Linked DNA regions of Homo sapiens: region 1 is linked to region 2. The links come from fine-mapping of genetic effects on gene expression. A gene starts in region 2. The other region holds a variant in brackets. All regions are shown on one strand. Distances are from middle to middle.

Region 1 (5,368 bases), 32 kb after region 2:
GGCTGAGGCAGGAGATTCATGTTGGCCAGGCTGGTCTCGAACTCCTGACCTCAGGTGATCCACCCACCTCGGCCTCCCAAAGTGTTGGAGCCACCGCGCCTGGATGGAGATTAAGTTTCTAACACATGAGCTTTGGGGGACACATTCAAACCTGTCCACCTAAAGTAATCAAAAGGGTCAGAATCTAATTTCAATAGTTTATTCAAGCACAAAACATGAGGGTGGACTACCTGGAAACACCGACTCCAAATGAATGGAGTCAGTGTTTCGAAGTAGAGAAGTTAAGGTTTCATTTACACACACAAAGGCAGAGGAGTTTTAGGATTACATTCTTCATATATGGTCAGTGCGTACTTACAGTAATTTGGTTATAGGCCGAGTGCAGTGGTCCACTCCTGTAATCCCAGCACTTTGGGAGGCCGAGGCGGGCAGATCACCTGAGGTCAGGAGTTCAAGACCAGCCTGGCCAACATGGTGAAATTCCATCTTTACAAAAATGTAACAATTAGCTGGGCATGATGGCAGGTGGCTGTAATCCCGGCTACTCAGGAGGCTGAGGTGGGAGAATCGCTTGAATCTGGGAGGCAGAGGGTGCAGTGAGCCGAGATTGTGCCATTGCACTCCAGCCTGGGCGACAGAGCCAGACTCTGTCTCAAATTGAAATAATAATAATAAATAATTTGGTTGTAAGCAGTGTTTCTTTTTGGGAGGCATACATTTAACATTTTTTACAGAGGGTGTAATAGTCATGGGTTTGCTGTCATCTGGTCTAAGTAAAGCAGGACAACAAAAGGGAAGTTATCTATAAGAAGGGTCATTAAGAAGGCAGCAGGTTTTTGTCCCATGTTTAATTCTCTCCAATAATTGTACAGAACAAGAAAAACAAGCAGGTCTAATTTATTATCTCAGAAAAAATTATAACCATACATGGCTGAGATCACAGTCACCTCTCTCTCCAGGTTTCAAGTGTTGTGGGGGTTCCAACATCTTTTCTATTTATTTTAAAAAACCACAGCAGAGGGGTTGTGCACCCTTTCATATTTCTTGGCTATTTGGATTTGTTCTTCTGAGACATGTCCATTCCTATTTTTTGCTCATTTTCTATTGTTTTTGCCTTTTTTCTAATTAGTTTTTAAGATGTATTTGTATATTACAGGTATTGGCTCTTTATCATGTATGGCAAATATTTTTTCCTCATCTATCATTGTCTCTTGACTTTTATCAGTGTTAATTTTCGGGGTAATCAAGTATATCTTTTTACAGTTTGAGGTTCCTGTCTTTGCAGTCTCTCAACCCCTAGAATACCCTTATAGTCTCCTAAATTATATTCTAAATGTTTTGTTGTTTAAATTTAAGATTCTACGCCATTTATCAACGAAATCATCTTTTCCTGATTGAAATAAAATACTACATTTGTGGTATTTCCGGATTCTGTTGCACTAATGTGTCTTTCCTACCAACAATATCATATTGTTTTATTATTGTGGTTTTTTGTTTTTGAGACGGAGTCTCATGCTGTTGCCCAGGCTGGAGTACAGTGGTGCGATCTCAGCTCACTACACCTCCGCCTCCTGGGTTCAAGCAATTCTCCTGCCTCAGCCTCCTGAGAAGCTGGGATTATAGGCGTCTGCCACCACGCTCGGCTAATTTTTGTACTTTTAGTAGAGACGGGGGTTTCACCGTGTTGGTCAGGTTGGTCTCGAACTCCTGACCTCAGGTGATCCCCCCGCCTTGGCCTCCCAGTGCCTTGGCACTGGCCTATTGTGTTTTATATACTATGTTTGTCATCTGGAAAGGCAAGCTCCTGCTCCGTCTTGTAAAGTTTTCCCAGTACTGTAGTAGTTATTTTTATTTTTATTTTTGACAGTCTCGCTCTGTCACCCAGGCTGAAGTGCAGTGGCCCCATCTCGGCTCACTGCAACCTCCGCCTCCCGGGTTCAAGCGATTCTCTTGCCTCATCCTCCTGGGAAGCTGGGATTGCAGGAGTGCACCACTACACCCAACTAATTTTTGTATTTTTCGTAGAGACGGGGTTTCGCCATGTTGGTCAGGCTGGTCTCGACCTTCTGACCTTGTGATTCGCCCGCCTCGGCCTGTCAAAGTGCTGGGATTACAGGCGTGAGCCACCGCGCCCGGCCGTAGTTATTGTTTTATACGATTTTAAGATCATTTAATTAAATCCTCTGAACTCCGTGGAGATTCCAATAGAAGTGTGTATTTGTAATTTTTGAACTGACAACCTTCTGTTACCTTTCATCTAATATGTTGTTGCATCAGTTCAAATACTGTTTTAAATCCTTCGATAAGTCGTCTCTATTCGTAGCTTTTTGGGTCACTTTTTTTTTTTTTTTTTTTTTCCAAAAAAACAGGAAGTCTTTTTACCTGCAGCGTCAACTGAGCCGGTTTTCCGGCGCGCGCCAGCCCCTCCCCTGCTCCCGCCCCAAGGTTCTGCGTTACCATGGGAACAAAGGTTGACGTCACTTAGGGCTTCCTTGCTGGACCCAAGGGTCGATGGTGAAGGGAGACGGGTGGAGAGGCGGTTTTGCTCCATCTACGCATGCGCACTTCCTGCTCCAGGACTCCCCCGCCGTAAATCTCGTTCCGGCTGGGCCTTTTCCGCCGCGACTCTCGCTTAATCCCGGAGAAACTGCCCCCTGGGGGAGGGGAGTAGAAAAAGGCTG[G/A]AACCAGCGACAGCCAATCCCGCGACACTACAACGCAGGCGAGATTGATTGAGTCCACCACCGCAGCCAATGAGAGAGCTCGCCGTCGCTCCGTCATAGAGTTCGCCCCACCCCATCCCCTCCTTTCTGGACTCGGAGCTCAGTTCACGCAGTAACAAATGAAGTGCGCGCTGCGACACCTCCCAGCCCACCGAACTCCGCCGCCATTTCCTCGCTTGGCCTAACGGTTCGGCCAATCCCAGCGCGCATCAAGAAGGACTGAGGCTCCGCCAATCGGAGGCCGCCGATTTCGACCCTTCGCCTCGGCCCGGCCCAATCCAGGCCCCGGCCCCGCCGCCCCCGGCCCGCCCCCGCGGTGCCCTCTCTCCTCCCTCTTTGTGCGTCTCGCGCCGCCGCCGCCCGCCGCGTGAGAGGACGGGCTCCGCGCGCTCCGGCAGCGCATTCGGGTCCCCTCCCCCCGGGAGGCTTGCGAAGGAGAAGCCGCCGCAGAGGAAAAGCAGGTGCCGGTGCCTGTCCCCGGGGGCGCCATGGCGACCGGAGCGAACGCCACGCCGTTGGGTAAGCTGGGCCCCCCCGGGCTGCCCCCGCTCCCCGGGCCCAAAGGAGGCTTCGAGCCGGGCCCTCCGCCTGCACCCGGGCCTGGGGCGGGGCTGCTGGCTCCCGGGCCGCCGCCGCCCCCGCCCGTGGGCTCGATGGGGGCCCTGACCGCGGCCTTCCCCTTCGCGGCGCTGCCTCCGCCGCCTCCGCCGCCGCCCCCTCCGCCTCCCCAGCAGCCGCCGCCGCCTCCACCGCCACCGTCCCCCGGCGCCTCGTACCCGCCGCCGCAGCCGCCCCCTCCGCCGCCGCTCTACCAGCGCGTGTCGCCGCCGCAGCCGCCGCCACCCCAGCCGCCGCGTAAGGACCAGCAGCCGGGCCCGGCCGGCGGCGGAGGAGGTGAGTCGGGCCGAGAGAGCGCGAGAGGCGTCGCGCGGACGGGCCCGGCCGCCTGAGGGGCGCGCGGCGGCGGCGACGGCGGCTGCACGCGGCAGGGGCGCGCGTGCGCGCACGGGGAGGCCCGGGCGGAGGCGCCCCTGGGCGCGCGCGGCCTGGTTCTAGGGCCTCGAGTGCGCACGCGCGCTGTGGGGGGAGGGCTGGGCGGGCGGGAGGCGCTCTGTGCGCAGACGCAGTGAGGTGGCCGGGCTGTGCGGCGCAACTGTATAGACTGGGGGCCCACTATTGCTGTCCAGTCCGCTGGTGTCGGGAACAGGGGTGGCGGGTGTTCAGCGCTGGACGGGGTGCTAGCTGTGAATGCCAGCAGGGCGTGAAAGCCTCACCTGATGACGTGCAGCGACTCCCTTCTGGTCTTGAGGAACCAGAATGGGAACCGTACCAAGGATAGCTCCTCTGCTTCTACAGCAAGGCAGGGTTTTCATCCGGGAGAGGTTGGCATGCTTCAGATGATGGTTGGGTCTGATCTTTCTTGGTCTCTTTTGGGGAGAGAATTTTAGTTTGTTTTTTTTTTTAAATCTGTTCAGTATGTTTAGATCTCAGTCTGATCGGCTGCCCTGTCGCTTTGTTTTAAAAAGCTTTTCCCTCTGATCCTGTACCCCTTGGGAAATAGAAGGACTCTTTTGTGGCAAATGTAGGGAGTTTCTGCCTATGTACGGGGAAAGGAGAACTTGGCTGCTATTGTATAGGTTGTTGAATTTTTGATAGATCCTTTTAAGAGTTCAGACCCTCAGTGTCCAACTGGCCAGGAAAACTGAATGCTGATCTTGGCTAAACTTATGAAGACAAAGGTGATCTTGTTGAAGAATTGGGCTTTTCCCACTTGGTAGGGTGTAACTAGGTTTAGTTGTGGTCCGGCCTCTCGTACAAAAGTGACTGGTGAGGGGAGTGGAGGTGGGTGGAGCCCCCAGTCCCATCAGGACTGCTTTACAAATCTATGATTCTTCAGTGTATTTTTGTCTCCCCTGGGGATTTCAGAGCACTCATGGTTGATGTAGTATCTATCTAACACTCTCTGCAGCCATATGCATTAAGATTACCACGTTTATATATCTGACAGTTTTTCTAGACAAAAGAAGGTGAAATGTTAACTTGCCTGACCAAGGACCACATACCCTTGTAGTGGCCATAAGCTTTAAATCTCTGATCTCTGAGGTTTGTTTTCTGTTTTTTTAATGTTTAAGTTTTAGGTTAAGCTCTCAGCTTCACAGTCTGCTGAGTTTCTGTGTAGTACCTTAAATACCCTTAGCTGTCTGTTGATAACTACTTGTATTTACATCGGATGGATTTTGTCTCTGCCTTTTAGACTTCCCAAGTAAGAAGCGGAAGAGGAGCCGCTGGAACCAAGACACAATGGAACAGAAGACAGTGATTCCAGGAATGCCTACAGTTATTCCCCCTGGACTTACTCGAGAACAAGAAAGAGCTTATATAGGTAAATATACGTTCTGCATCCAAATGCACTTTGAGATTGTTACGATTTATTCTGAGCAAGATCTGCATTTTTTGAAAGTTTGAGATTGTAGTTATCTTTTTTGAGATGAGATACTTTCACGACTTTGGTATCATCTGTCAGTTTTTGCCCAGTGAGTTCTGCATTTGCAGCTCCTTGTTTTGGTCTGTTCGTAACTGCAGTGTTCTCCATGAGTATCAGGAAGGTAGGGTTTCACTTAGGAGTAAGAACAGTCCCCAGTCCAGCA
Region 2 (5,318 bases):
TTTTTGTTGTTGTTGTTTTTAGGGACAGGATCTCACTGTGTTACTCAGGCTGGAATACAGTGGTGCGATCACAGCTCACTGCAGCCTCGAACTCCTGCCTGAGCTTCCTGAGTAGCTGGGACTACATGGTGCACACCACTGTGCCTGGCTAATTTAAAATAATTTTTTTTTTTTTTTTTTTTTTTTTTTTTGTAGAGGCAGGGTCTTGCTTTGTTGCTCAGGCTGGTCTGGAACTTTTGGCCTCAAGCAGTCTTCCTGCCTTGGCATGTCAAAGCCCTGGGATTACAGGTGTGAGCCACTGAGCTTAGCTTTGACTGTTTTTGAAACACAAAGTGGCTAAAGCCTGTAATGCCACCACTTCTGGAAGGCTGAGGTAGGTAGATCACCTAAGGCCAGGTGTTCAAGACCAGCCTGGCCAACATGGTGAAACCCCATCTCTACTAAAAATACAAAAACTAGCCGTGTGTGGTGGCGGGTGCCTGTAATCCCAGCTACTCGGGAGGCTGAGACAAGAGAATCACTTAAACCTGGGAGGCAGAGGTTGCAGTGAGCCAAGATCGTGCCATTGCTCTCCAGCCTGGGCGACAGAGCGACTCTGTCTCAAAAATAAATAAATAAATAAATAAATTAATTAATTAATTAAATTAAATTAAACTCAAAGTCGCATACTCCCGAGTTGCCTCAGTTCTGGGCCAGCTTGGAAGGCTGGTTACCCTGTTTACTAGTTTTTCTACTGATGTCCTTTTTCTGTTCCAGGATTTGATCCAGAACACCACATTGCATTTAGTTGTTCTGTCTCCTTGGTCTCTCATCTGCAATGATTTGTGGGTCTTTCCTTATCTTTCATGACCTTGGCTCTTTTGATTTCTTTTGTTTTTTGTTTCTGAGGCGGGGTCTCACTGTGTTGCCCACGCTGGAGTGCACTGGCGTGACAGCTCACTGCAGTCTTGACCTCCTGGGCTCACATAATCCTCCTGCCTCAGCCTTCTGAGTAGCTGGGACTACAGGTGAGCACCACCACACCTGGTCAATTTTTTGTTTTTGTAGAGTCCGGGTCTCCCTATGTTGCCCGGGCTGGTCTTGAACTCCTGGCCTCAAGCAATCCTCCTGCTTCAGCTTCCCAAAGTGTTGTAATTACAGGCATGAGCCTGGCATGAACTTGACACTATTGAGATATACTGGTCAGGTATTTTGTGGAATGTCCCTCAACTCTGTTTTGCCAGATGTTTTCTCATGATTAGAGGAGAGTTATAAATTTTGAGGAAAATCCAGAGAGGTGAAGAGGTGAAGTAGGGCAGAAATTTAATCTGTTTTATTTACTGCTATATACCGAGTGTCTGGAACTTGGCCCATGGTAAGTACCAAAAATCTGTTTTTTTTGAATGAATAAGCAAATAAATGAGTGACCGTGGAAATTTAGTATTATTTCAAAGTTTCAAAGCGTTGTTGATACAGGCCAGGCACAGTGGCTCACACCTGTAATCCCAGCACTTTTGGAGGCCGAGGTAGGAGGATCACTTGAGGTCAGGAGTTCGAGACCAGCCTGACCAACATGGTGACACCCCTGTCTCTACTAAGTAAAATACAAAAATTAGCCAAGTGTGGTGGCAGGCACCTGTAATCCCGGCTACTTGGGAAGCTGAGGCAGAAGAATCACTTGAACCTGGGAGGCAGAGGTTGCAGTGAGCCGAGATCACCCCACTGCACTCCAGCCTGAGTGACAGAGCGAGACTCTGTCTCAAAACAAATAAACAAATAACTACTCTTTGGCCGGGTAAGGTGGTTCACGCCTGTAATTTTAGCACTTTGGGAGGCTGAGGCGGGCAGATCACTTGAGGTTAGGGGTTCGAGACCAGTCTGGCCAACATGGTGAAACCCCATCTCTACTTAAAATACAAAAAGTTTTCTGGGTGTGGTGGCGGACGCCTATAATCCCAGCTACTTGGGACTTTTTTTTAAGACGGAATCTCACTCTGTTGCCCAGGCTGGAGTGCAGTGGCAAGATTCTGGCTCACTGAAGCCTCCGCCTCCCAGGTTCAAGGGATTCCCCGCGCCTCAGCCTCCCAAGTAGCTGGGAATCCCTGTCTCTGCAAAAAAAAAAAAAAAAAAAAAAAAAAAAAAAAATATATATATATATATATATATATGTGTGTGTGTGTGTGTGTGTGTGTGTGTTATATGTATATATATTTATGTATATGCACATACACACAAAATTAGGCGGGAGTGGTGGCGCACGCCTGTGATCACAGCTACTCGGGAGGCTGAGGCACGAGAATCGCTTGAGCCCGTGAAGTCGAGGCTGCAGTGAGCCCAGATCGAGCCACTGCATTCCAGCCTGGGCGAAAGAGAAAGACCGTGTCTCAAAACAAACAAACAAAAGCTACTCTTAGCACGTGTTAGAGTATCTCGCGGGCGGAAGTGGGAAACGAGTGCTGCACACAGAGTAGGCATCTTTATATGTTAACAGACACTGATACCCAGCTAAAGCGGCTGAACACATTTACTCTCTGGCAGTGTTTAAAAGTATCTGTTTTTCTCATATTGTTTTATTTTAATTTTTTCTGGATCAAGCAACCTGATCTTTTTCCTCATAACTTGCCGACCGACCCGTGACAGCAAAACCGGCAGAAGCTCGGCGACCTCCCACCCCGAGTCTGCAGGTAGTGCCCCCGGACTACATTTTCCAGAAGGCACTGCGGGCACGCTTCCTGCCTGGTCGGCCTGAAGGGAAGGGCCAATCCCTGAGTATCTCGGGAAGGAGGTGTCCGGAGCCGCGGACCTAGAGATCCCAGAAGCCACAGCGCAGCGGCCCGGCCCGCCACTATTTCCAGGCTCAGCGGGGCAGGGGTGGGCCCAGACTCCACTTCCCGGCGGGTAGTGCGACCCTAGGGGCGGGACTTCATGTCCCAGCAGGCTCCGGGCGGCGTGCGCCGCGGTGCCTAGTGTGGGATGTAAGCGCGGAGGTGGGCGAGGGGGACCGAGGCCAGGACTCTCCTTGGGGTTTGGGGGCTTGACCTGGGTGCGCTTTCTGGACAGACTTTACAGCCCCGGGGGCACAGTCGTAGAGAGGGGGCGGGGCGGCCATTGGGGCTCCTCATTGGGGTGCTTGGGGCGCACCCCATCGGGTACCGGGCGTCCCGGAATTGTGGGGGACAAAAAGGCTCTGCAGTCTCGGCTGAGGGGTCTCACCGACAAAAGAGGGGAAGCCGGTGAGCAGAGGCTGAAGAGGGTGGGGAAGCAGGGGAGCTGTGCGTGTGTCGGGGCGGGTGGAACCTTAGCGGACCCTGGGAGGAGGCTCCCCGGCCGAACCTGCCCGACCCTCCCTCCCCCGGCTTGCCTTGCAGGCCGCCGCCCACCGCCCGCCGCCATGGGGCTGAAGGCCGCCCAGAAGACGCTGTTCCCGCTGCGCTCCATCGACGACGTGGTGCGCCTGTTTGCTGCCGAGCTGGGCCGAGAGGAGCCGGACCTGGTGCTCCTTTCCTTGGTGCTGGGCTTCGTGGAGCATTTTCTGGCTGTCAACCGCGTCATCCCTACCAACGTTCCCGAGCTCACCTTCCAGCCCAGCCCCGCCCCCGACCCGCCTGGCGGCCTCACCTACTTTCCCGTGGCCGACCTGTCTATCATCGCCGCCCTCTATGCCCGCTTCACCGCCCAGATCCGAGGCGCCGTCGACCTGTCCCTCTATCCTCGAGAAGGGGGTGTCTCCAGCCGTGAGCTGGTGAAGAAGGTCTCCGATGTCATATGGAACAGCCTCAGCCGCTCCTACTTCAAGGATCGGGCCCACATCCAGTCCCTCTTCAGCTTCATCACAGGTTGGAGCCCAGTAGGTGGGAATCTTATCCATGACCCACTTCTTCAAAACCCTCCATGGTTTACAGAACCCTTTTAAGAACTGTAAGCCTTGTGAGGTTCGGCAGGTGTTATTTTCCTCTTTGCAGTTGGGAAACTGAAGCCCAGAGAGGGGAAATGATATGCCAAAGTCACACACGGCATGGCAGGGCTGGAAGTGAAGCCTGATCACTTGGCTCCAAATCATCAACCTCACCTCTGCCCCCTCAGCACCCCCACCCTTGCCACTGAACAGCTACAGGAGTTCTAAGCATGAGACACAGAGGGCGGCAGCAGATTTAGGGGGCAAGAAGATGAAATTGGGCTGCATTTGAGGCAGTTAAACAAAATAATGGCTATGAAGATTTTTTTTTTTTTTTTTTTTGAGACAGGGTCTCACTCTGTCCCCCAGGCTGGAGTGCAGTGGTGTGATCATGGCTCACTGCAGCCTCAGTCTCCCTGGGCTCAGAGATCCTCCAACCTCAGCCTCCTGAGTAGCTGAGAGTACAGGCATGCACCGTGGTGCTGGTTAATTTTTTGTATTTTTTTTGTAGAGATGGTGTCTCACTATGTGGCCCAGACTGGTCTTGAACTCTTGGGCTCAAGTGATCTGCCCGCCTCAGTCTCCCAAATGCTGGGATTACAGGTGTGAGCCACCGCAACTGGTGGCCTATGAAAATTTTTTTTTTTTTTTCAGACGGCGTCTCACTCTGTCGCCCAGGCTGGAGTGCAGTGGTGCAATCTCGGCTCACTGCAAGCTCTGCCTCCTGCTTTCATGCCATTCTCCTGCCTCCTGCCTCAGCCTCCTGAGTAGCTGGGACTACAGGAGCCTGCCACCATGCCTGGCTAATTTTTTTTTGGATTTTTAGTAGAGACGAGGTTTCACCATGTTAGCCAGGATGGTCTCGATCTCCTGACCTCGTGATCCGCCCGCCTTGGCCTCCCAAAGTGCTGGGATTACAGGCGTGAGCCACCGCACCTGGTCAAAAATGTTTGAGACAGAGAAGGGGCTTGACCTCAAAAGGCTTAAGAGTCAGGGCTTGCAAAGAGCTTTGCACCAAGCCCGGTTGACTGGCAATCCCATCCTGGTGTGCCATATTGAGAAGGAATCAGAGGCTGCTTCTCAGCTTAGCAGGAAAAGAGTGCAGAGATAAATGAGGGTTATTTGTTGGTGGGTGTATAGCCAGAGAGTGTTGGCCAGCGTCCTGTTTTTGCCATTCCTGTTTTAACCTAGTAAGTGCAGTAAAATGGAATCCCTAAATCCATAGAATATATAATAGAGTTGCAGAGAAAGACGAGGTAGGGCCAAAGGCTGGGTCAGCTACAGGATATCCAGAAAGGTATCTTGTTGGACATAGAGGGTGTAAACAGGGAGAGAGTCTTTGAACACGTGGGAGGGAAGGGATGGAGGGATAGTGGGCAGGAGAATCTGAGGTTGGGTCACAGGCTTGGAAAGGGAGTGGGAGGGAGTGTGGCCCATCACTACC

Evidence for each region. PIP is the estimated chance that this variant, and not a neighbour inherited with it, causes the effect.
Region 1: its variant is fine-mapped to the expression of MEN1 in whole blood (TOPMed, PIP above 0.99).

Annotation. Positions count from the first base shown.
Region 1 is chr11:64,776,233-64,781,600 of GRCh38, reverse strand. SF1 (splicing factor 1) reads left to right here and starts at 3,059. Exons shown (of 13, transcript NM_004630.4): 1 at 3,059-3,239; 2 at 4,975-5,103. The coding sequence starts at 3,209. RefSeq lists enhancers at 2,595-2,704, 2,681-3,282 and silencers at 2,945-3,344, 3,605-3,914. The variant G/A (reference allele first, on the strand shown) is at 2,682.
Region 2 is chr11:64,808,162-64,813,479 of GRCh38, reverse strand. MEN1 (menin 1) reads left to right here and starts at 2,929. Exons shown (of 10, transcript NM_001370259.2): 1 at 2,929-2,966; 2 at 3,348-3,815. The coding sequence starts at 3,371.